Homo sapiens: one gene and its partners. The protein of the gene in region 3 interacts with the protein of the main gene of each other region in a biochemical or structural test. Each region holds a gene or a part of one and is shown on either strand. Other genes may lie near its edges.

Region 1 (7,815 bases), on a different chromosome or scaffold from region 3:
CATACACACACCAGGCCCGAGTCCACATGCTCACTCTGTGGGCACCTGGACTGGGGTAAGGACAAGCTGGAGGAATCTGGACATTTGCAGAGACATGATGGGATGGACAAAGGAACAAGTAGGTTAGATACACAGCAAAGACCACGGGCAGGCGGGTAGAGATGGTACAAGGGCTGACACAGAGCCAGAAAGACACAGCTCAACCACACAGCCCCCACAGTTATCCTCTCAGGTGACACAGAAGTATCCAGCTAGTCACTGAGATCCCAGCAAGTCAATCACTAAGAAACCAGCAGGCCAGACAGAGATGAACCCCCCCACCTCCCGCCACTGACAGAGCTCTGGCTGACCATCCACACACATGGACCCAACCCTGGCTGGCTGGATAGTGCCTGAGGCAGACAGACCTACCCGTGCCAGCCATATTCCCAGTCACTGTCCCCCATTCTGCCTCCCACCTGTTTGCTCACCAGCGTAGATGGCACGGATGGCATCTCCCGCACTCTGCACAAAGGACACCAGGGCGGTCATTACACCCATGGTAGCCGACAGCGCCTCCACACTACCATACCGCGAGTAGATGGGCTTGCCAGCCTCACTCAGCACAAACACATGCTTCCGCTGGCTGCGCCACTCCTCATCACTGGGGTCCCCGCCCTGGCCTCCAGAGCTACTCTCAGGGCTACATGTGGGACTATTCTCAGGGGCTGCAGGACTCCAGAGCCGAGAGGTGCTTGACAGGGCCTCTGACTGGGGCGGTGGTGATGGGCTGGGTGGCTGGTCCTTGTCCTTGGATCCTGAAAGGGAGCCCCTGGTGGGTCATCTGCATGTGAACTCCTAACTAATCCCACATCCCCAAGGACCCACCAAATATCTACTAGCCCCTCCATGACCCCTGCATGCTGACGCAGAACTCCAAGTGTCTCCTATGCCCCTCAATGACCCGATGACTGCCCTAGGACCCCGCAATGATCTCCACTAACATTTAGGTTCCAATGAACTTCCTAAAACCCTAATAAACCAACATATTCTCATTGTTATTCCACTGGACTTGCTATGTTCCTACAGACCAATTACTTCCCTTTCAATCACTGTTATTCCAAAGTCTTCAAAGCACCCCATTGACTCTGGATGACGATTATTCATCTTCAATGATCCCCCATTAACTCCTCTGACCGCTATTTTTTCTCCTGATATCTGCTCACCCAATGGCCACCATTAACATCTATTAATATCTTAACTGTTTGAATGCCCCAACCCCCGCTACTACCCTATCAGTGATGCCCACTGATACCTGATGACCCCTACTAACTCTCCTGGTTGCCCATTTATATTCTTGGTAATGTCCACTATTTCTCCCAATGACTGTCGTTAATATCCACTAACACCCAGATATTTAGGACTCCCCTAATCCACTATTCACTCCCACTGTGGTTCACAAACACCCCAATGACCCCACATTAACAATCATTAACACCTGGTTTTTCAATGACCCTCCATGACTGCCCTGATCCACAAGTTATTCTACTCCATGTCTACTCCCCCCTACCCCCAACAATGACCATCATTAACCTCCACTAACACCCAGCACTTCAGAGACCTTCAGTCACTCCCCTGACCACCTTCAATCTCATTGGTATCCACTCCCCTCCCTACAGTAACCATCATAATATCCACTAACACACAAGACTTTAATGACTTCCATTGCCCCTACCCATGACCATCATTAACATTCACTAAAACCCACAACTTCAACAGCCCCTACTGACACATCCATTTATTCCCATTGATTTCCATTCATCCCCCAATGACAACCATTATTATCCATGTGCAACTATGTCTCAATAATTTTCCCATAAAATCCCAATAATTGCATATTCTGTCACTGACATTCACTGACACTCCCATGTCCCCAAATATCTTTACTCCCTCCTAATAACTGCTCTTACCTGCTATTAATTCCCAAGTCCTCAACCTCCCCATCCACATTTATTCTCAGTGAGGTCCACTGATCCTTCCCAATGACTCCATTTACATCCACTAATTCCAAAGTGATCAATGGCACAGACTTCTCAGTGACTTCCATTAAATCTCAAATGAACAACTTTACACATCCACTAACATTTGGTCCCTTAAAGACTTCCCCAACAGTCTACAAGTGACTTCAATGATGTAAATACTCTGAGTGCCCATCGAACTCCACTGATTCCCCTTCCCACTTCTATTATTTAATAAATAACACCCTACTCCTCAAAAACACTAACTTCTCAACAGTCCTCCTCTGTTGAGTCTATTGACTTTCTTCAGCGCATTCTTTGATCTAAACACTCTAAATCCTCAGTGACCCTCTTTGGTCCTAACAGCCCCCTTTTTGATTCCTCAATGACCTAAACTCACACCAAACCCCCAGTGAACATCCGTTGACAGCCAATGACTTCCTCAATGATGTAAACTACACCATGTGTCCACAGTGACCTCCTCCTGACCCGGCGATGGTTTAAGCCACTTCTCTTAAGTCCCAAGACTCCCTACTGGTCACCCACTGACCCTTCCCCCGTCCAACAATGACAACCCCTAAGGATTCCTTTTAAGACCCCACTAAGTGGAGTCATACCTGTTTCCTCCAGGCCCTCGTCTTCGGGATCCGGCGGGACCGCGTGAACCCCTCCACCTTCTCTAGCTTCCTCACTGGGGAACTGCGTGTCCTCCAAGTCCTCCGCGCCCCCGGGGGCCGGGGCAGCAGTGTCTCCTCCGACCTCCATCTGCACATCCCTGAGTGGGAGGGGAATCGAGGGTGACGGGCGGTGAAAGAAACTTCTGAAAAGCCTTTATAGAGTCAGGCCCCCTTGGACACACTCCTACTGCTCATTTCCCCACGGATTTCAATAGGACGAGACATCCAAAATCATGCCCAAATACGTCCCCCCTCCAACACTTTCCGAAAAGAGGAGACTCTACTGGGCCTCAGGAAATAGAGATATACAAACACCTGTTTTAACTCCGAATCTCAATTGGCCGGATACCATTACTTCCCCGTAGCGGCGGTGGCATCACACTTCCGGGTGCGGCCCGGGAGGTGCCACACTTCCGGGTACGACCCCTCCCAGAAGACACTTCCGGTTGCGGAGCTTTATTGGCTCCTCGCGGCGTCCCTCTCCCGCCGCCTACGGGTGTCCCCTCATAGTTGAGATGGCGCGGGCCACTTCGGATCTACGTCAGGTCTGTTCGGGAGCGCAATGAGACCTCTCTGCACTCCTTTCAACGGATCTGGCTACGGCTGCTAACCCGGGAGAGCGAGGCCCACTTCGCTTACCAGTGGTTGGCGTGAGGGGGGACGCGGCTCGCTCTAGCCAATCCCGGAGTACATAGGGCGCGACCGTCTTCTTTCTGGGCCAATCGAGATGAGCCGCCTCATTTCCCCGCTGTCTACTCCCCCCGCCAAATCCTAACCAATACTGTGCGTTGTGTTGCGTTTGCACACGCCCATCCATTGATTGACGTCTCCCTCGACCCAATCGAAGACTCGAGCCTATTCCTTGTTTCACAAGAGGACTTTTGCAGCGTCAGTCCCGATGGATACCTGTGCCGGACCCACAAACGGGCTCTCCCAGAACTGAGGCAACTCCACTTTCTCTTATCCCTTAACCCTGCCAAGAAAGTCAAGGGAGGGGAGAGGCGCGAATGCTTGACGGGCAGTCGCCGCTTCTAATCAGCGTGCCGCGCCAGCAGCTCCGTACCCTGCCGGGTTCCCACGTCTACCTGCAGCTGGGGGAAGAACTCTGCCAGCCCAGGGCAGGGGCGGGCACTCACTTGGACCAGGACCTGCCCGACGCCCCCGGTCCGCCGGGCGAACGGGTCGTCACTTTCTGTGATCAGTTTGGGAAAAGGCTTGGGGGCCCTGCCACGGGCCAGTGTGGGAACCCAGGGTTCGAATTCCCGCCCCGACGCTGCTTCCGGACCGAAAGCCCCCTGAACGCCTTGCCCCAAGTGCCCTGGGCCTTGGTTTCTCCATCAGTGAAACAATGATGGGAATCGCTTGACGTGAAGTGAGTGGAGGTGCTGGCACACTTCGAGTGATTGCTAAGGGGAAGCCTTTGGTACTAGTTAGGATAATTATTTTAATTACAGTATAGTTAGGGTAATGAATTCCAAATACCAGTGTAGCATCATGTGCTTTATATACAATAGGTAATCGATAAGTAATAAATATTAAATTTATATAACAGAAACAATGGATAAATTTATGTGCATACAAAATATATTTACCTAATACATTTAGAAGTATATAATATATAATAAACATGTAAAAAAGTACAATAAAATAACATCTCATAAGCAAACTTATTTATTAATCTCGCTGTGTTACCCAGGCTGGAGTGCAATGGCAAAATGTTATTGACTCATTGCAGCCTCCGTCTCCCGGGTTCAAGCAATTCTCCTGCCTCAGCCTCTGGAGTAGCTGGGATTACAGGTGCCCGCCACCACGTCCGGCTAATTTTTGTATTTTTAGTAGACATGGGGTTTCGCCATGTTGGCCAGGCTGGTCTTGAACTCCCGACCTCAGGTGATTCACCCGCCTCAGCTTCCCAAATTGCTGGGATTACAGGAGTGAGCCATCATGCCCAGCCCAGGGCTACACACTTTAAACAACCAGATCTCGCAATAACTCCCTCAGTCACTGTCACCAAGAGGATGATGCTAAACCATTCATGAAGGATTCACCCCCAAGATCCGATCAACTCCCACCAGACCCCACCTTCAATAATGGGGATTACCATTCGACATCAGATTTCGGTGGGAACATAGATCCAAACCTTATCAGGGGAGTAGAGGAATAGTTACGCCTTCATCTAGCTTTGTCAATCTGCATTTTTACCTCAGAGGAAGCAATCAGATATGCATTTGTTTCAGGTGAGCAGAGGGATGACTTGGGGTTCGCTCCTTTGTCTCGCACCTGTGAAGATAAACTATCAATTTACGTTGTCAGGGTAAAATTCAACAGAACCGTTTTAGGGTAAAGATCTTGCAGCCCACAAGGAATCCCTAGAGGGCAAATTATGAGGGAAGTATGTAGCTTTATCTTTGTAAATATCTTATTTAGGGATAAACTGGGAGGCAGGTTTGCCTGATGCAGTTCCCAGCTTGACTTTTACCTTTGGCTTAGTAATTTTGGAGTCCTGAGATTTATTTTCCTTTTACACCTGCCTTGTATTTCAACAAAACCATATCACAATTAGGCTCCTTTTAAAAATTCTTGCTGATGTGCTCTGTGAACTTTAAAGATTGTTTTCCAGGGAAAATGGCAGAACTAAGAACAATTGTCACACAGTCTCTTATCTGAAACCCTTAGTGCCAGATGTGTTTTAAATTCACACATTTTCCTGATTTTAGAAATGAAATTAGGTGCATGTGCCATGTATTATATAGAGCCCAGCAAGGGACTGGGAAACACCTGATAACTAAACTCATTTTTTCTGAGTGAAACTTTTTATTACTCCCAGTAAGAGAAACACTAAACCGTCTTATGTTAGTTTAGTTCAGGTTTTACCTCCAAGTGAGCTTTTAAAAATTATTTTTCTGGAGCTTTTTGGATTTCAAAACTGCAGACGTAAGTTTATGGAGCTTTATTAGCATTCCGTGTTTGATGATTTGCCACTCTAAACAATTTCTACAATCAAAGATGAGAGATGGGAACAAGTGAAGGAACATAGAGCCATCTCTGGTGTGTCTGCCTTTTTTTTTTTTTAATCAGAAAAGCAAAGACCAAAAATATCTCAACAAACCTCTCCAGTAGATTTTAAGTTATGGCTCATGGCTTGAACTGCAGAGTGTTTACAAATTGTAGACACACACACAGACACAGAGTTTTTTTCTGTTTGTTTTTTTAACAGATCAAAGATGTCTTTGTGACATTATATATGTTTATACTTCCTGACTTTATGGACACTGTGTAAGTCCCAGGTAATCCCAAGCTACAGATGAGTCTAAGAAAGGACGTAAAGGAAAACACAAAATACTGCCTAGGACTTAAGGACAGGAACTCAGTTAGACCCTCATGTTAAGCCTGAGCTTGATCTCTTACGTACCATTTCTGTTTGATAATAAAGCGTCCAATGTCAGGCTGGGTACAGTGGCTCATGCCTGTAATTCCAGCACTTTGGGAGGCCGAGGCGGGCAGATCACAAGATCAGGAGTTCGAGACCAGCCTGGCCAACATGGTGAAACTAAAAATACAAAAATTAGCAGGGCGTGATGGCAGGTGCCTGTAATTCCAGCTACTTGGGAGTCTGAGGCAGGAAAATCGCTTGAAACCAGAAGGCAGAGGTTGCAGAGAGCCAAGATTGCACCACTGCACTCCGGCCTGGGCAAAAGAGTGAAACTCCATCTCAAAAATAATAATAATAATATTAATAAAATAAATAAATAAAGCACCCAACCTTATAGCTAGGTGAGTATCCAACACCCAGCCCATGATCGAAATCTCAGGCTGTGCAATCACCTGACATCCCATAGTTAGGTGCTCATTCTTTACCAAGGCCTGGTCCCAAACCTGTTCAAAAGAAGAATCATTAACTACAGAAGAGAGGATAGATTTATTTCAAAATCTTACACATCTGTGTAGTGTTTTTTTTTTGTCCTATTGTTGCTTGCCAGATGCTCTGTAGAGCATCCTTATTTGCCATGGACAGTTTGACAATCTATGGGTCTGCTGGATCATAAGCCCCAAGTGGTGGATTAGCTTAACCTGCAGTCTGAACTCACTTTCTTTTGTTCTTCTCACTTGAAATCTACAGGTAATTCTGTAAATGAGTCAAAGTCACACACTGAAATGTGGTATGTGTTGCTTCCAAAATCTAAAAGACTTTTACTATTGTGGATAAATAGTAAAGTATATTTTCTCATTTAAGAATATAATTGACTTATCTAAATGCAAAACCGATGTATTGTGGGGTTTATAATATTTGTAGAAATAAAATGTGTGGCAGCAATAACACAAATGACTGAAGTTATACATGATAGCACATTACTTTAAGGCTCTCACATTTTACATGAAGAATTATTATTTGAAGATATATTGTGAGGAATGAAAGAAGCATTTTGTTGACATGGGGAAAAAAATACAGAAATGCCAAAGAAATTTAATGCCAAAGAAATAATAGGCCAAGAGTTGAGATAAAGTGGAATACTAAGTGTATGCCATCCAAAAGAAAGATGAAAAAGAGGAACAAAACAATAAAGAACAGATTGGACAAATAGAGAACAAACAGCAAGATGCAAGACACTAATTCAACTATGTTAAAAATTGCATTAAATACAAATAAATAGTAGAATTAAAACAGAGATTGTCCAACTGTATATAACATCAGGGCCTAAATATAGGCTCACTACAAGATCTCAATGTAATTATGTGGTCTGTAAAAATATAAATGGGCCAGGCGTGGTGGCTCATGCCTCTAATCCCAGCACTTTGGGAAGTTGAGGTGGGTGGATCACTTGAGGTCAGGAGTTCGAGACCAGCCTGGCCAACATGGTGAAACCCTGTCTCTACTAAAAATATAAAATTAGCTGGGTGTGATGGCATGTGCCTGTAATCCCAGCTACCTGGGAGTCTGAGGCAGGAGAATCAGTTGAACTTGGGAGGTGGAGGCTGCAGTGAGCCAAGATCATGCCATTGTACTCCAGCCTGGGCAAAAAGAGCGAAACTCCATCTCAAAAATAAATAAATAAATAAATAAATAAATAAATAAATAAACACCAACAAAAAAAGGGACTCCTGTAAATATACAAAAAAAAAGCAGATCATTTAAAAGTAAA
Region 2 (8,093 bases), on a different chromosome or scaffold from region 3:
AAGTGCTGGGATTACAGGTGTGAGCCACCACATCCAGCCAACAGACATCTTTGGGAGGGAGATTTTTTTTTTTTTTGAGATGGAGTCTCATTCTGTCGCCCAGGCTGGAGTGCAGTGGCATGATCTTGGCTCACTGCAACCTCTGCCTCCTGGGTTCAAGCAATTCTTGTGCCTCAGCCTCCCGAGTAGCTGGGATTACAGGTGTGTACCACCATGCCCATCCAATTTTTGTATTTTTAGTAGAGATGGGGTTTCATCATGTTGGCCAGGCTGGTCCCAAACTCCTGACCTCAGGTGATCCACCGGCCTCGGCCTCCCAAAGTGCTGGGATTACAGGCATGAGCCACCGCGCCCAGCTGAACTTGTGTTTTTATCCCTCAGGCAATTAAAAAAGAAAAATGGAAGGGAAAACTGAAAGATCTCTGAAGAATGCCCAGCTCTGTCACACCTGTGATGTGGCCTCTGGAAACCCCTGCCTGTGGGGAAGACTTATCACTGGTACTACTCAGGTGTTCAGGAACAATGGCTCCGAAGTTAGAGGGACCTGGATTAACCTGGCCTGGTCTCAGTTTTCTCATTTATAAAATGGGATAGTAGTATTGATTCCTTGGGTTGTGGGAAGATTAAATGAAATAATCCATGTAATTTGATTACATACTCAGTTGCTCCCATTAGCACATCCTGATTATTCTTACTTAGCATTCAGTCCATGTGTGACTGCACTTATAATACCACATGAATCCAGTGGTCTGTGCCATGTAAATCGGGCCTCTGAGATTTTGCTCAGCCTACAGTGGCATATGGGCAAATACGCTTCTGACCTTGCAAAGCCAGGTGGGCCCTAGCCTGAAGCGACTCACCTTCAGGCTAGGGCTATCATATAGACAGTTGGGAGTCAGGTCAAAGAGCTGTCTTATAGACAGCTGGGAGTTCCTCCAGGCTAACTGGTTGTTCACTGGCTCTGGAGTTGCAGGAATAGACAACGGGCTCTCTGCTGCTCTTGGAAGTATCTCCTAAATTAAACTCCTTAATTAGCCAGGTATGGTGGCAGGCGCCTATAATCCCAGCTACTCAGGAGGCTGAGGCAGGAGAATCACTTGAACCCAGGGGGCAGAGGTTGCAGTGAGCTGATATCGCGCCATTGCACTCCAGCCTGGGCAAAAGATTGAAACTCTGTCTCAAAAAAAAAAACAACAAAAAAAAACAAAAAACTCCTTGGTCTGCCACATGCCACTGCTCTGTGACGTTGCACTTTTGGTTCAAAGACCCAAACAAGGTCTACAATAGCTTACTTATTCTGTCCTCAGGGCCCACTCTCCACTGATCCCTTGTGGGCTTTAGCTGACTAAGCCCAGTGTGGCTGAGTGGTACCCAGCACGGTACCTGCATGGGGAAGGGTTGGCGGGGGCCAGATCAGCTGGCCAGAGCTAGTGGATGCTTCCTTCACAATAGTTCTCCTGCCACCTGAGATCATACAGTATCTCAGCATCTCCTAGGTCAGTCTGGGGTCCAGCCAGAGGCCTGATGAAGCAAACAGCTCTCTGAATACTTACTCTGGAAACTCAGACAGGGAGGCTGAGTGAATCACAGCAAAATCCACCCCAACCCCCATTGGAGCCACAACTGTGCAACTGAAGCTCCTGGGAGGCTAGAATTGAAGAAGTTAGGCAAAGGAGGTCTCTTAGAACCAGCCCCAGATGCCCCTTCTCAGGGAACCCTTCTCAGACAACCCCTCTAGAAGCCCCAGGCCTTGCTTTTCCTAGAAGTGCCCTGCTATGCCTGTGAGCAATGTCACCAAACAAGTTGGCTCAATCAGCCCTTGTAGTGTGCCTCTCTCACTCAGGCAGCCTTGGAGCAGAGAAGGCCTTCAGAAGCCCCTCCCTACTGACTCCCTACCACTCCTGCTCCCTCTTCTTGCTTGGATAGCACTTCATTTCACCTTAACCCTTTGGAGCGGCCTGTCTGGAAAGGAGGTGCCAGGATACAGGATGTGTGGCAGACAAGGCCCAGGTGAGGCTGTGCTATGGCTGCTTCAGCAGGATGCCTACTCCATGCTGAGATCACAGTCTGGTCCTTGTCACTTCTGGCGGTTACTTCCCTCCCTGACAAAGGGTGCTCACTCTCCCTCTGCAAACTTGTGCCCAGAAAGGGTGGCTCACCCAGTACAAGGGACAACCCAGTTGCACCAGGCAAACTGGTGCAAAGTCCGGCCAGGCGCAGTGGCTCATGCCTGTAATCCCAGCACTTTGGGAAGCTGAGGCAGGCAGATCACCTGAGGTCAGGAGTTCAAGACGAGCCTGGCCAACATGGTGAAACCCCGTCTCTACTAAAAAAATACAAAAATACAAAAAATTAGCTGGGCGTGGTGGCGCATGCCTGTAATCCCAGCTACTCGGGAGGCTGAGGCAGGAGAATCGCTTGAACCTGGGAGGCGGAGGTTGCAGAGAGCTGAGATCACACCACTGCACTCCAGACTGGGCAACAAGAGTGAAACTCCGTCTAAAAACAACAAAGCAAAGACCCAAGCCCCTTCCAGGTGCTGCCCCGCTCATCCCAGTTACCTCTGTTGCTTTTTGAGAAGACTCTACCGGCCGAATATGTGTACGTTTGTTGGCGGGGCGGGGGTGGGGGAGTGGGGAGAGTCCTACCTGGCCACTGCCCCCTACCGGATCTCGCCCTCCCAGCCAAAGGATGGGTTCCAGATCTCGCCTTTTGTATTCCCCAGCTGGGGACTAGCCGGCTGAGGGACCGCAGGGAGACACAGTCTTCCCATTGCAAACGATAGCGTTGATGGCTGGAGGCCCCCGTCTTCAAGCCCCTCCCTCCAAAGATGACAGCTCTCCAGTCTCTAGGTGCCTCCAGGCCACGTGGGCTGGCAGTCAACTCACCTGTTTCTCAGAGGAGTCCAGGACGCACAGAAGGTGCCGGTCACTGCCCTCTGCCGGACCCATGGAGGGGTAAGGGTGTCCGGCCGGGGCCGGCCTGAGGGCACAGCTTCGCGGGGCCCCGGCCCCCTGCGTACACAGACATGGCCACAGCGCAGGCACCGCTCCCTCCCACCGCCCTCACCCGGCCGCCGGTGCAGGAAGATAGCTTTCGCCGGCCTCTCGCGGCCAAGGCCCAGCTCCAGCCGCTCAGCCCGACTCGGCCCGCCCCCGGGGTGCATTGTGGGAAATGTAGTCCTTAGCGTTTGGCCGCCTGCGGCGCCGAGGGACTGGTTCTGGGCTCCTAGTCCCAGCAGAGCCGTGGGCAGGTCCTGACCCGGGTCCGCGATTGCCTCATCCGGCGCCGCCTTCTAGGGGCCTGGGCGCCTCCTCCGAGTCTAGAGTCCCACACAGAACAGCCCTGGACTCTGGGCCTCTCCGTCCGAGCCAGCTAGCAGTTCATTTCAAGTGAGAGAAAGGGACGTTAGGATTGTTTCTCCCACTGATTGTGGAAGGACAGTGCAAGTTTGGGGGACTGGATAAATGTCATTAGTGGGCCCAGCCACACAGGCTGTAAAGGATGTGGGCATGCGCAAAAGTCGCACTAATTGTTTCTAAAAACATATTTGTAGCCACGTTTTAATGTATCAGTATAATGCTCTAGAACGGTAGTTCTCAACTCTGACGGCACATAGAATAAGCCGGGAAGCTTTAAAAAAAAAAAAAAAGAACTAGGACGGGCGAGGCGGCTCACGCCTGTAATCCCAACACTTGGGAGACCGAGGTGGGCGGATCACTTGAGGTCAGGAGTTCCAGACCAGCCTGGCCAACATGGTGAAACCCCATCTCTACTAAAAATACAAAAACTAGCCAGGCTTGATGGCGTGTGCCTGTAGTCCCAGATACTCGGGAGGCTGAAGTGGGATTCCAGGAGGTCGAGGTTGCTGTGAGCCATGATCATGCCCTGCACTCCAGCCTGAGCACCAGAGCGAGACCCTGTCTCAAAAACAACAACAAAAAAACTAATGCCTGGACACCAGCCCTAGAGATTTTGATTTAATTGAATTTAGAGTAGGGTGGAGTGTTGGGGAGCCAGGCATCACTATTGTTTTAAAAGCTCCCCAGGTGATTTACCATTGCAAAGAATCATTGTTTGTAATTTCCTAGACGCAAAGCAATAAAAACAACAGGAAAACAGTCAACAACAGGCTCTCCCAAAAGACCCTTATTTTTAGAGATGGTTTTAAAAAGTAAAATTAGTGTTTGGCACCACTGCTCATGTTCTTTTCTGAAGCAATTAATTCACTTTACAGCCTTATGGTTAATTCTCCCAAAAGTTAATAGGATGAAAAAAAAAGTCAGATCACTCCTCTGACTTTCCCTGCTGCTCCACAAGCACCTGGGGGCAGTGTCCTTTTCCTCTCTAAGCCCTACACTGGAGTTAGGGTAGAGCTCCGCCCCTGGGCTTTTCTTCCAGTCTCAGATGGCTGCCACTTGTAGCCTGCTTCCACAACACTGGCCTGTGACTGACATGGTGACAAAGCTGTGGCCTTTCACTGAAGATGGCTTTGCATAAGGCTATCAAGTTCTTGCACATAGTCTAAGGGAAGCTTTCTCACCCCCATGTCCCCCACTTTTAGGTAAGGACATAAGAAAATGCCCTATTCCTTAACTGAGAGTCTCTCCAGGTCTCCACAGATCACTCAGTATTTTATCTCCTCATTAGCTCAGAAGTCCAAGTTCCCTCCCTTAGGGCAAGAATCATTTATACAGTTGTTTTCTCTAATTATTACACTATAAGAGTTTGAGCCATGAGCTGGGCTTGGTGGCACAGCCTTGTAATCCCAATTACTCCACAGGCTGAAGCAGGAAGAATTACTTGAGCCCAGGAGATCAAGTCTGAAGTGAGCCATGATCATGGACAACAAGAAGGAGAAAGTTAAGAAAGAAGGAAGGAAGGGAGGGAGGGAGGAAGGAAGGAAGGAAGGAGAGTTTAAGTCAAGATATAACATTCTCTGCTTGGTACAGAAATGTCCTGGCTATGTTCCTTTCCTTTTTCTTTTTCTTTTTTTATTTTTTTTTTAGAGATGGTGGTTTCACTATGCTATGTTGACAAGGCTGGTATCGAACTCTTGGCCTCAAGCAATTTTCCCATCTTGGCCTCCCAAAGTACTGTGATTACAGGCATAAGCCACCATGCCTGGCTAATATCCTGCCTATATTTCATTAACTTGAATTTACACCCTATAGAATTCATCTCCATAGAAGACAAATTAATTTAATTTACTTATTTTTTTTCAAATGAAGTCTCTATCATCCAGGCTAGAGTGCAGTGGTGCCATCTCAGCTCACTGCAACCTCTGCCTTCTGGGTTCAAGTAGTTCTCTGCCTCAGCCTCCCGAGTGGCTGGGATTACAGGTACCTACCACCACGCCCAGCTAATTTTTGTATTTTTAGTAGAGACAGGGTTTCACCATCTTGGCCAGGCTGGTCTTGAACTCCTGACCTCGTGATCCACCCGCCTCAGCCTCCCAAAGTGCTGGGATTACAGGCATGAGCCACCACACCCCGCCCAGAAGACAAATTTAAAGTTTTCTTTTTTTTTTTTTTTTTGAGACGGAGTCTCGCTCTGTTGCCCAGGCTGGAGTGCAGTGACGTGATCTCAGCTCACTGCAACCTCCGCCTCCCGCGTTCAAGCAATTTTCCTGCCTCAGCCTCCAGAGTAGCTGGGATTACAGGTGCGTACCACCACGCCCGGCAAATTTTTGTGATTTTTGTATTTTTAGTAGAGACATGTTTCACCATGTTGGTCAGACTGGTCTCGAACTCCTGACCTCGTGATTCATCCATCTCGGCCTCCCAAAGTGCTGGGATTACAGGTATGAGCCACTGCGCCCGGCCAGTTTTTTGTTTTGTTTTGTTTTTTTGAGATGAAGTCTTGCTCAGTCACCCAGTCTGGAGTGCAGTGGCACTATCTCGGCTCACTGCAACCTTAGCCTCCCACGTTCAAGCGATTCTCCTGCCTCAGCCTCCCAAGTAGCTGGGACTACAGGCATGCACCACCATGCCCAGCTAATTTTTTTATTTTTAGTAGAGATGGGGTTCCACCATGTTGGCCAGGATGGTCTCAATCTCTTGACCTTGTGATCCGCCCGCCTCGGCCTCCCAAAGTGCTGGGATTACAGGCGTGAGCCACTGCGTCCAGCCTAATTTTTGTATTTTTAGTAGAGACGGGGTTTCACCAATGTTGGCCAGGCTGATCTCGAACTCCTGACCTTGTGATCCGCATCCACCCACCTCGGCCTCCCAAAGTGCTGGGATTACAGGTGTGAGCCACTGCGCCTGACCAAATTTAAAGTTTTCTACCTAACTAGTTCTTGACAGTCTCCATGTTTAGCTCAGGATTTCTTCCAGAGTCTTACTATTCCTGTTAAGCACATCAGCTCCACCAGATAGTACTACTGTCATCTGGAAGTATTACATCTACTTAGCTAAGCAAGTGGCCATATATCTCATATATTTCTCGCTAAGACTTGTGCCTAAGACATTCTCGCAGAGCAAATCATGGTGGGTACTTACTAAAACATCTTAGGTTATTACTTAAAACTTTGTTTTAATCCACTTTTTTTTTTTTTTTTGAAACGGTGTTTCACTCTTGTTGCCCAGGCTGAAGTGCAATGGTGCGATCTCGGCTCACCACAACCTCCTTCTCCCGGGTTCAGGCGATTTTCCTGCCTTAGCCTCCCAAGTAGCTGAGATTACAGGCATGTGCCACCACACCCGGCTAATTTTGTATTTTTAGTAGAGATGGGGTTTCTCCATGTTGGTCAGGCTGGTCTCGAACTCCCGACCTCAGGCAATCCACCCACCTCGGCCTCCCAAAGTGCTGGGATTACAGGCATGAGCCCCCATGCCCGGCCTTGTTTGTTTTTTGAGTCAGGGTCTTAATCTGTCACCCAGGCTGTAGTGCAGTGGCTCACTGCAGCCTTGACCTCCTGGGCCTAAGTGATCCTCCCACTTCAGCCTCCCGAGTGGCTGGGACCACAAGTGTGTGCCACCACATTGGGCAAGTTTTAAATTTTTTGTAGAAATGGCGTCTCCTTATGTTGCCCAGGCTGGTCTGGAACTCCTGGGCTCAAGCAATCCTCCTACCTTGGCCTCCCAAAGTGTTGGGATTACAGGTGTGAGCCACTGTGCCTGGACTGTTTTTATTTTTATATTGAGACAGAGTCTCAATATGTTGCCCAGACTGGCCAGGAACTACTGGGCCCAAGCCATCCTCCCACATCAGCCTCCTGAGTAATTAAGACTACACACCCAGCAAGGATACACTTGAGTTATAACCTTGCAGCACCTCAGGTTCTGACATCTTCACTAAAGCTAGAAAAGAGAAGAAATATGGGGAAGAACAAGACGTCTAATTGTTACATTTCTTCCGCCTTCACTTTTCAGCTGTGGCAAGTTACTTAACCTTTCTGGGCTCTGGTTTCCTTAACTATAAAAGGGGAGGCAGGGAGTGGTGGTTCATGCCTATAATCCCAGAACTTTGGGAAGCCGAGGTGGGTGGATCACCTGAGGTCAGGAGTTCGGGACCAGCCTGGCCAAGATGCTGAAACCCCGTCTCTACTAAAACTACCAAAAAATTAGCTGAGCATGGTGGTGTGAGCCTGTAATCTCAGCTACTCAGGAGGCTGAGGCAGGAGAATCGTTTGAACCCTGGAGGTGGAGGCGGAGGCGGAGGCAGAGGTTGCGGTGAGCCGAGATCGCGCCACTGCACTTCAGCCTGGGTGAAAGAGCAAGACTGTCTTGGAAAAAAAAAAAAAAACTATAAAAGGGGATAATATTGGCCAGGCTAGTGGCTCATGCCTGTAATCCAGCACTTTGGGAGGCTGAGGCAGGTGGTCATGAGGTCAAGAGATCAAGACCATTCTGGCCAACATAGTGAAACCCTGTCTCTACTAAAAATACAAAAATTAGCTGGATGTGGTGGCATGTGCCTATTGTCCCAGCTACTCGGGAGGCTAAGATGGAAGAATCGCTTGAGCCGGGGAGGCGGAGGTCACAGTGAGCCGAGATTGTGCCACTGCACTCCAGCCTGGTGACAGAGCGAGACTCCATCTCAAAAAACAGGGGATAATGTCATATAGTTATTACGAGGATTAAATGAAA
Region 3 (7,103 bases):
ACAAAAATTAGCCTGGCGTGGTGGCGCGTTCCTGTAATCCCAGCTACTCGGATAGCTAAGACGGGAGAATTGCTTGAACTGGGGAGGTGGAAGTTGCGGTGAGACGAGATTGTGCCACTGCATCCCAGCCTGGGTGACTGAGTGAGAATCTGTCTCAAAAACAATTAAAAAAAAAAAAGTTCTAGTCTCCAGAGCAGCAGCAGCGGCACCAGCAGCAGCAGCATCATAAACTCATAAATCAAAGAAACATGGGTAAGTGTGATTATGTTAAAAACATACACACAGCCAAAATTACCAGAAGCAATGTCAAAAGAAATGACAAAGGCGAACGCAGCCTACAAAGGGCGCATGTGCAGAGGGGCCTACAAACAGGCTCATTCTCGGCAGCACTGCCTCCAACAGCGTAGAGAGGAAAAAAATGCTCTCCAACAGAAAGCTGATTTAATACATTATGTACATCCAAACAATGGAACTCTATGCAGCTTCAAATGAGAATAAACAAGTATTGCCATACGTGGTAGAAAATGACTCAGAGATATTATTAAGAGAATAACGCAACATACCAAAGTATATATATCATATGCTACTACTTGTACAAAAGTGGGGAGGGATTATATACTATGAGCTGTAGCTGCATATAATATCCCCCCACCCCAAATTAAAAGAGAAATAGTGATTGCTTCTGGGATAAGGGGCAGTCTGAGAACTGGGGTAAAAAGTAGCTTCAGGCCAGGCACAGTGGCTCACGCCTGTAATTCCAGCACTTTCAGAGGCCGAGGCAGGTGGATCATCTGAGGTCAGGACATCGAGATCAGTCTGGGCAACATGGTAAAATCCCGTCTCTACTAAAAATACAAAAATTAGGCGGGCGTGGTGGTGGATGCCTGTAATCCCAGCTACTTGAGAGGCTGAGGCAAGAGAACTGCTTGAACCCAGAAGGCGGAGGTTGCAGTGAGTCGAGACTGTGCCACTGCACTCCAGCCTGGGCAACAGAGTGAGACTCTGCCTCAAAAAAAAAAAAAAAAAAAAAAAGGGCCGGGCGCAGGTGGAAGCTCAGGAGGCTGGACAACACGGTGAAACCCCGTCTCTACTAATACACAAAAAAATTAGCTGGGCGTGGTGGTGTGTGCCTGTAATCCTAGTTACTTGGGAGGCTGAGGCAGGAGAACTGCTTGAACCTGGGAGGTGAAGGTTGCAGTGAGCTGAGATTACACCAGTGCACTCCAGCCTGGGTGACAGTGTGAGACTCCATCTCAAAAAAAAAAAGATTTTCTTCTTTGTCTGCAGAGTGGAAGATTTATGAAGACTCAAAAAGCACAATCTAAAAGAACAAAAGTGATATATTTACCTGCTTTAGGGTGAAGGACTCACACTTCTGATTTCAAAGCTTATGGCAAAGCTACTGTAATCAAGACAGTGTAGTACTGGCATAAGGACGGACATACAGACATATAGATCAGTGAAACAGAACTAAAAGACCAAAAACAGACCCTTACATTTGTGGACAATTGATTTTTGACAAGGGTACCAAAACAATTCAATGAGGAAAATACAGTCTTTTCAACAAATAGTGCTGGAACAAATAGATATCCATGTGTAAAAAATGAAATTTGGACACCCACCTTGCATTACATACAGAATTAACTTAAAATGGGTTGAAGACCTAAACATAAGATGTAGAAAAATTATAAGCTGGGCGCGGTGGGTCACACCTGTAATCCCAGCACTTTGGGAGGCTGAGGCGGGAGGATTGCCTGAGCTCAGGAGTGTGAGACCAGCCTGGGCAACATAGTGAGACCTGTCTCTTTAAAAAATAAAAAATTATAGAACTCTTAGAAGGAAACATCAGAGTGAATCTTTGTGATCCTGGGGTAGGCAATGGCTTCTCAGAGATGATACTGAAAGCACAAGTAACAAGAGAAAAACTGGATAAAAGAGACTTCACCAAAATTTAAAACTTTAGTGCATCGAACGACACCAATCTCACCAAGAAAGTGAAAAGAACTCACAGAACAAAAGAAAATACTTGGAAATCATGTATCTGAGGAGAGACTTGCATTTAGAATCTATTAAGAATTCTTACAATTCTGTAATAAAAATGACAGAACCCAATTTTAAAAATGGGCAAGTGATCTGAACAGACATTTGTTTAGCTGAAGACAAAGGCCAACAGGCACAAGAAAAGATGATCAACATCCTTAGTCATTATGGAAATGCAAATAAAAACTACAATGAGACACCACTTCATACTCAGTAGGATGACTAAATTCAAAGAATAACAGGCCAGGCATGGTGGCTCACGCCTGTAATCGCAGCACTTTGGGAGGCTGAGATAGGTGGATCACCTGAGGTCAGGAGTTCAAGACCAGCCTGACCAACATGGCGAAACCCCATCTCCACTAAAAATACAAAAACTAGCCAGGCGTGGTGGTGCATGCTTGTAATCCCATCTACTCAGGAAGCTGAGGCGGGAGAATTGCTTGAGCCTGGGAGGCCGAGGTTGCAGTGTGCCAAGATCGAGATCGCACCACTGTACTCCAGGCTGGGTGACAAAGTGACAATCCATCTCAAAAAAAAAAAAAAAAAAAAAGACAGAATAATAAGTCTGTCCATGTGGATATACAACTGGAACCCTCCCACACTGCTGCTGGGAGTACAAACGGTACAGCTTCAGTGCAAAAGAGTTTGGCAGCTCCTCCAAATGTTAAATGCAGAGTTACCACAACTCAGCAATTCTACTCCTAGGGGTGTGTGTGTGTGTATGTATGTGTGTATGTATGTATGTATGTATGTATGTATGTATGTATGTATGTATTTTTGAGACAGAGTTTCACTCTTGTTGCCCAGGCTGGAGTGCAATGGCGTGATCTCAGCTCACTGTAACCTCCACCTCCCAGGTTCAAGCAATTCTCCCGCCTCAGCCTCCCAAGTAGCTGGGATTACAGGCATGCGCCATCATGCCTGGCTAATTTTGTATTTTTAGTAGAGACGGGATTTCTCCATGTTGGTCAGGCTGGTCTTGAACTCCCAACCTCAAGTGATCCATCCACCTCAGCCTCCCAAAGTGCTAGGATCACAGGCGTGAGCCACCACGCCCAGTCTCTACTCCTAGGTATATCTAAGAGAAATGAAACCATACATCCACATAAAAACTTTTCACAATATTCACAGTATCGTGACAGCCAAAAAGTGGAAACAACCCATCAGGTGTCCATCAGCTGATGAATGATAATATCATTACAATGGAATACTATTCAGCAATAAGAAGGAATGAAGGCCTCGCGCAGGCTTCAACCTGGGTGAACCCTCAAAACATTACACTAAGTGAAGATGCCAGACACAAAGGACCATTTATGTATTATAGAATTTCATTTCTAAAAAATCTCCAGAATAAGTTCAAAACCAGCCTGGACAACATAATAAGACGCTGTCTCTCCAAAAAATAAAAATAGAAAAAAAAAGAAATTAAAAAAAAATTAGCCAGGTGTGGCGGCACATGCCTGTAGTTCCAGCTACTCAAAAGGCTGAGGCTGAAAATTCGTTCAAGCCTAGGAGGTCAAGGCTGCAGTGAGGTATTATCACGTCACTGCACTCCAACCTGGGCAAAAGAGTGAGACTCTATCTCAAAAAAAGAAGAAAAGGAAAACTCCAGAATAAGCGAATTCATACAGACTGAACTAGATTAGTGGCTGCCAGAGGCTGAGGGAAGGAAAGATAGCGACAGACTGCTACTGGGCATGGGGATTCTTTTCGGAATAGTTAAAATGTGCCATACTTAGAGAGTGGAGATAGTTGCACAACTTTGTAAATACACTAAAAACCACTGAATTTTGCACCTTAAAGGAGAGAATTTCATGGCATTGTGAGTTTTTTTTTTTGTTTTTTGTTTTTTGTTTTTTTGAGATAGAGTCTCCCTCTGTCGCCCAAGCTGGAGTGCAGTGGCGCAATCTCGGCTTACTGCAACCTCCACCTCCCGGGTTCAAGTGATTCTCCTGCCTCAGCCTCCTGAATAGCTGGGACCACAGGGACCCACCACCACACCCGGTTAATTTTGTATTTCTAGTAGAGACGGGGTTTCCCCATGTTTCCCAGGCTGGTCTCAAACTCCTGATCTCAGGTGATCCACCCGCCTCAGCCTCCTAAAGTGCTAGGATTACAGGCATGAGCCACTTACCTCAGCCAGTATTGTGAGTTATAATAAATAAAGCTAATATTTTAAAATTTTAAAATTTAACTACTTTTAATGGGAAGTGTCTACATGATAAAAGACATTATACACAAAGTTAAGCCAGGCGCGGTGGCTCACGCCTGTAATCCCAGCAGTTTGGGAGGCGGAGGCGGGCGGATCATGAAGCGGATCCTGGCCAAGCAACATGGTGAAACCTTGTCTCTACTAAAAATACAAAAATCAGCTAAGCATAGTGGCGCACACTTGTAATCCCAGCTACTCAGGAGGCTGAGGCAGAAGAATCCCTTGAACCCAAGAGGCGGAGGCTGCAGTGAGCTGAGATCGCGCCACTGCGCTCCAGCCCGGGCGACAGAGCGAGACTCCGTCTCAAAAAAACAAAACAAAACAAAAAAACAAAGTTAAAAGACAAGTCACAGACTGGGAAGATACTTGCAGCTTTTATAATCCATAATGATCAACATCCAGAATATACAAAGAATTACTCAAAAAGAAAAAACGGGCAAAGAAAATGAACAATTTGTTGAACAGAAAATCTTAAACATCAATAAACATATAAAATGGGACTCAGCTTCACAGTAATCAGTACTGTGGTATGCTCACACTCATAAACTGGGCAAAAATTAATGCCTGAAGTTAAGGAAATGCCAAACTTACTTTGAATGCACCCTCTGATTCCATGGATAAGAGATCCCCATCGAATGGAATGAGATCTAAGCTGTACTCCTCCCTGTGAATAAAGGATCCCAAGACACCCAGATCCTTCAACCGCTGTTCGCACAACAGGCTACGGCGTGGCACAAACAGAATATGAAAATCTCTCGTTGGGCCTCGTCTATCTTCACTGCAAAGGAAGCAACATTTGTTAGCTTATGAGCTCCTAAGAGTCATGGACCATTTTGCTTTTTTTATCCCCACTGCCTGGCACATAGCAGGCACTAAATAAATGCTGGCTAGATAAATCATATAAATACTGACTCTCAGGCCGGGTGCAGTGGCTCACACCTGTAATCTCAGCACTTTGGGAGGCCAAGGCGGGCGGATCAGTTGAGGTCAGGAGTTCGAGACCAGTCTGGTCAAGGTGGCAAAACCCCGTCTCTATAAAATATACAAAAATGGCTGGGCGCAGTGGCTCATGCCTGTAATCCCAGCACTTTGGGAGGCCGAGGCGAGCGGATCACGAGAACAGGAGGTGGAGACCAACCTGGCCAACACGAAGAAACCACGACTCTACTAAAAATACAAAAAATTAGCCGGGCATGGTGGCAGGCACCTGTAATCCCAGCTACTTGGGAGGCTGAGGCAGGAGAATCGCTTGAAACCGGGAGGCAGAGGTTGCAGTGAGCCGAGACCACGCCACTGCATTCCAGCCTGGGCAACACAGCGAGACTCCATCTCAAAATAAATAAATAAAAACTAAAACAAAAATATACAAAAATCAGCTGGGCATGGTGGTGTGTGCCTGTAATCTCAGCTACTTGGGAGGCTAAAGCAGGGGAATTGCTTGAACCCTGGAGGCAGAGGTTGCAGTGAGCAGAGATTCCACCACTGCACTCCAGCCTGGGCAACAGAGTGAGACTGTGTCTCAAAAAAATAACCAAAAACTGACTCAGACCCAACGTGTTACAGCTGTACCCACTCTCTCTCTCTTTCTTCCCCCTGACAGGAAAGCATCACTGAGTCCTGGCGAGTACATTTTAGCATTCTCTTAAACCATTTATGGGGCATTGAAGCTCTCAGGTTGATTGAAATAGGATATCTGTGTCTCAATAAAAACAAATGGTTCTTCAACCAAAGCAATGCAGCCACAAAGAGTCTTAAATTAAAATGAAAGATCACTTTTGACTCCCACTCCTACTCTCCTTGACAGAGAACTTCCAAAAATAGCCCATATGCTTTTAAGATTTTAGGGGCTGCAACAATCAATTGTACCACAGAGTGCAGACTCGGCTGGGAGCACTTCCTCTATAGACTGGATGCTATATTAAAATTTAATCAGCTTTTTTTTTTTTTTTGCTTATGAAATTCAAGTACATGCAGTATATTTAAAAATAACTGCTGGAGGTTTATTTTTTTAAACTAGGGCCCTTTTTACTGACACAGGTTTAAGCTTTTGGCTATCTTTAAAGAATGGGTAGCTTTTGGCTATCTTGAAAGAATGGGTAGATAGGATGATCCTCCTCTCCAACTGCTGACAACAACTTCCTAAGTTTCTCATCCTCTCTATTTTTAATTTTTGGGGGGTACATAGCAGGCGCATGTATTTATGGGGTCCATGAGATGTTTTGATGTGGGCATGCAATGTGAAATAAGCACATCACGGAGAATGGGGGGACACATCCTCTCAAGCACTTACTCTTTGAGTTACAAAACAATCCAATTACACTCTTTTTTTTTTTTTTTTTTTGAGACGGAGTCTCCCTCTGTTGCCCAGGCTGGAGTGCAGTGGCGCGATCTCAGCTCACTGCAACCTCTGCCTCCCGGGTTCAACAGACTATCATGCCTCAGTCTCCCGAGTAGCTGGGACTACAGGCACAGGCCACCAAACCTGGCTAATTTTTGTATTTTTAGTAGAGACGGGGTTTCACTATGTTGGCCAGGCTGGTCTCGAACCCCTGACCTCAAGTGATCCACCCGCCTTGGCCTCCCAAAATGCTGGGATTACAAGTGTGAGCCACCATGCCCAGTCTCACTTTTTAAGTTTAAAAATACGTAATTATTATTAACTATAGTCACCCTGTTGTGCTATCAAATAGTAGGTCTTATTCTATTTTTTGTTGTACCCATTAACTATCTCCACCTCCCCCCAGCCCCCATCTTCTCTTTTATATTCTTCCATGCCTATCTCAGTTTTCCAAAAGACCACCTTGCACTGGCAAGAGTGAGGGTCTTCCATGAGAAGGAGCTCATAAATTAA

Evidence for each region.
Region 1: the proteins of VPS33A (region 3) and MON1B form a complex in vitro, tested with the Homo sapiens proteins (one study listed by BioGRID).
Region 2: the proteins of VPS33A (region 3) and MON1A form a complex in vitro, tested with the Homo sapiens proteins (one study listed by BioGRID).

Annotation. Positions count from the first base shown.
Region 1 is NC_000016.10:77,186,433-77,194,247, reverse strand, and holds the start of MON1B (vacuolar fusion protein MON1 homolog B), read right to left. Parts: upstream 3,059-7,815; 5' UTR 3,027-3,058; coding exon of another isoform or gene 2,990-3,026; intron 2,773-2,989; 5' UTR 2,763-2,772; coding exon 2,615-2,762; intron 798-2,614; coding exon 471-797; intron 1-470. Other genes in the region: uncharacterized protein LOC124903725, read left to right, coding at 3,682-4,026.
Region 2 is NC_000003.12:49,926,721-49,934,813, forward strand, and holds the start of MON1A (vacuolar fusion protein MON1 homolog A), read right to left. Parts: upstream 3,092-8,093; 5' UTR 2,889-3,091; intron 2,816-2,888; exon of another isoform or gene 2,649-2,815; intron 2,615-2,648; exon of another isoform or gene 2,562-2,614; intron 1-2,561. UniProt on the Homo sapiens protein: Plays an important role in membrane trafficking through the secretory apparatus. Not involved in endocytic trafficking to lysosomes.
Region 3 is NC_000012.12:122,256,418-122,263,520, forward strand, and holds part of VPS33A (vacuolar protein sorting-associated protein 33A), read right to left. Parts: intron 5,031-7,103; coding exon 4,844-5,030; intron 1-4,843.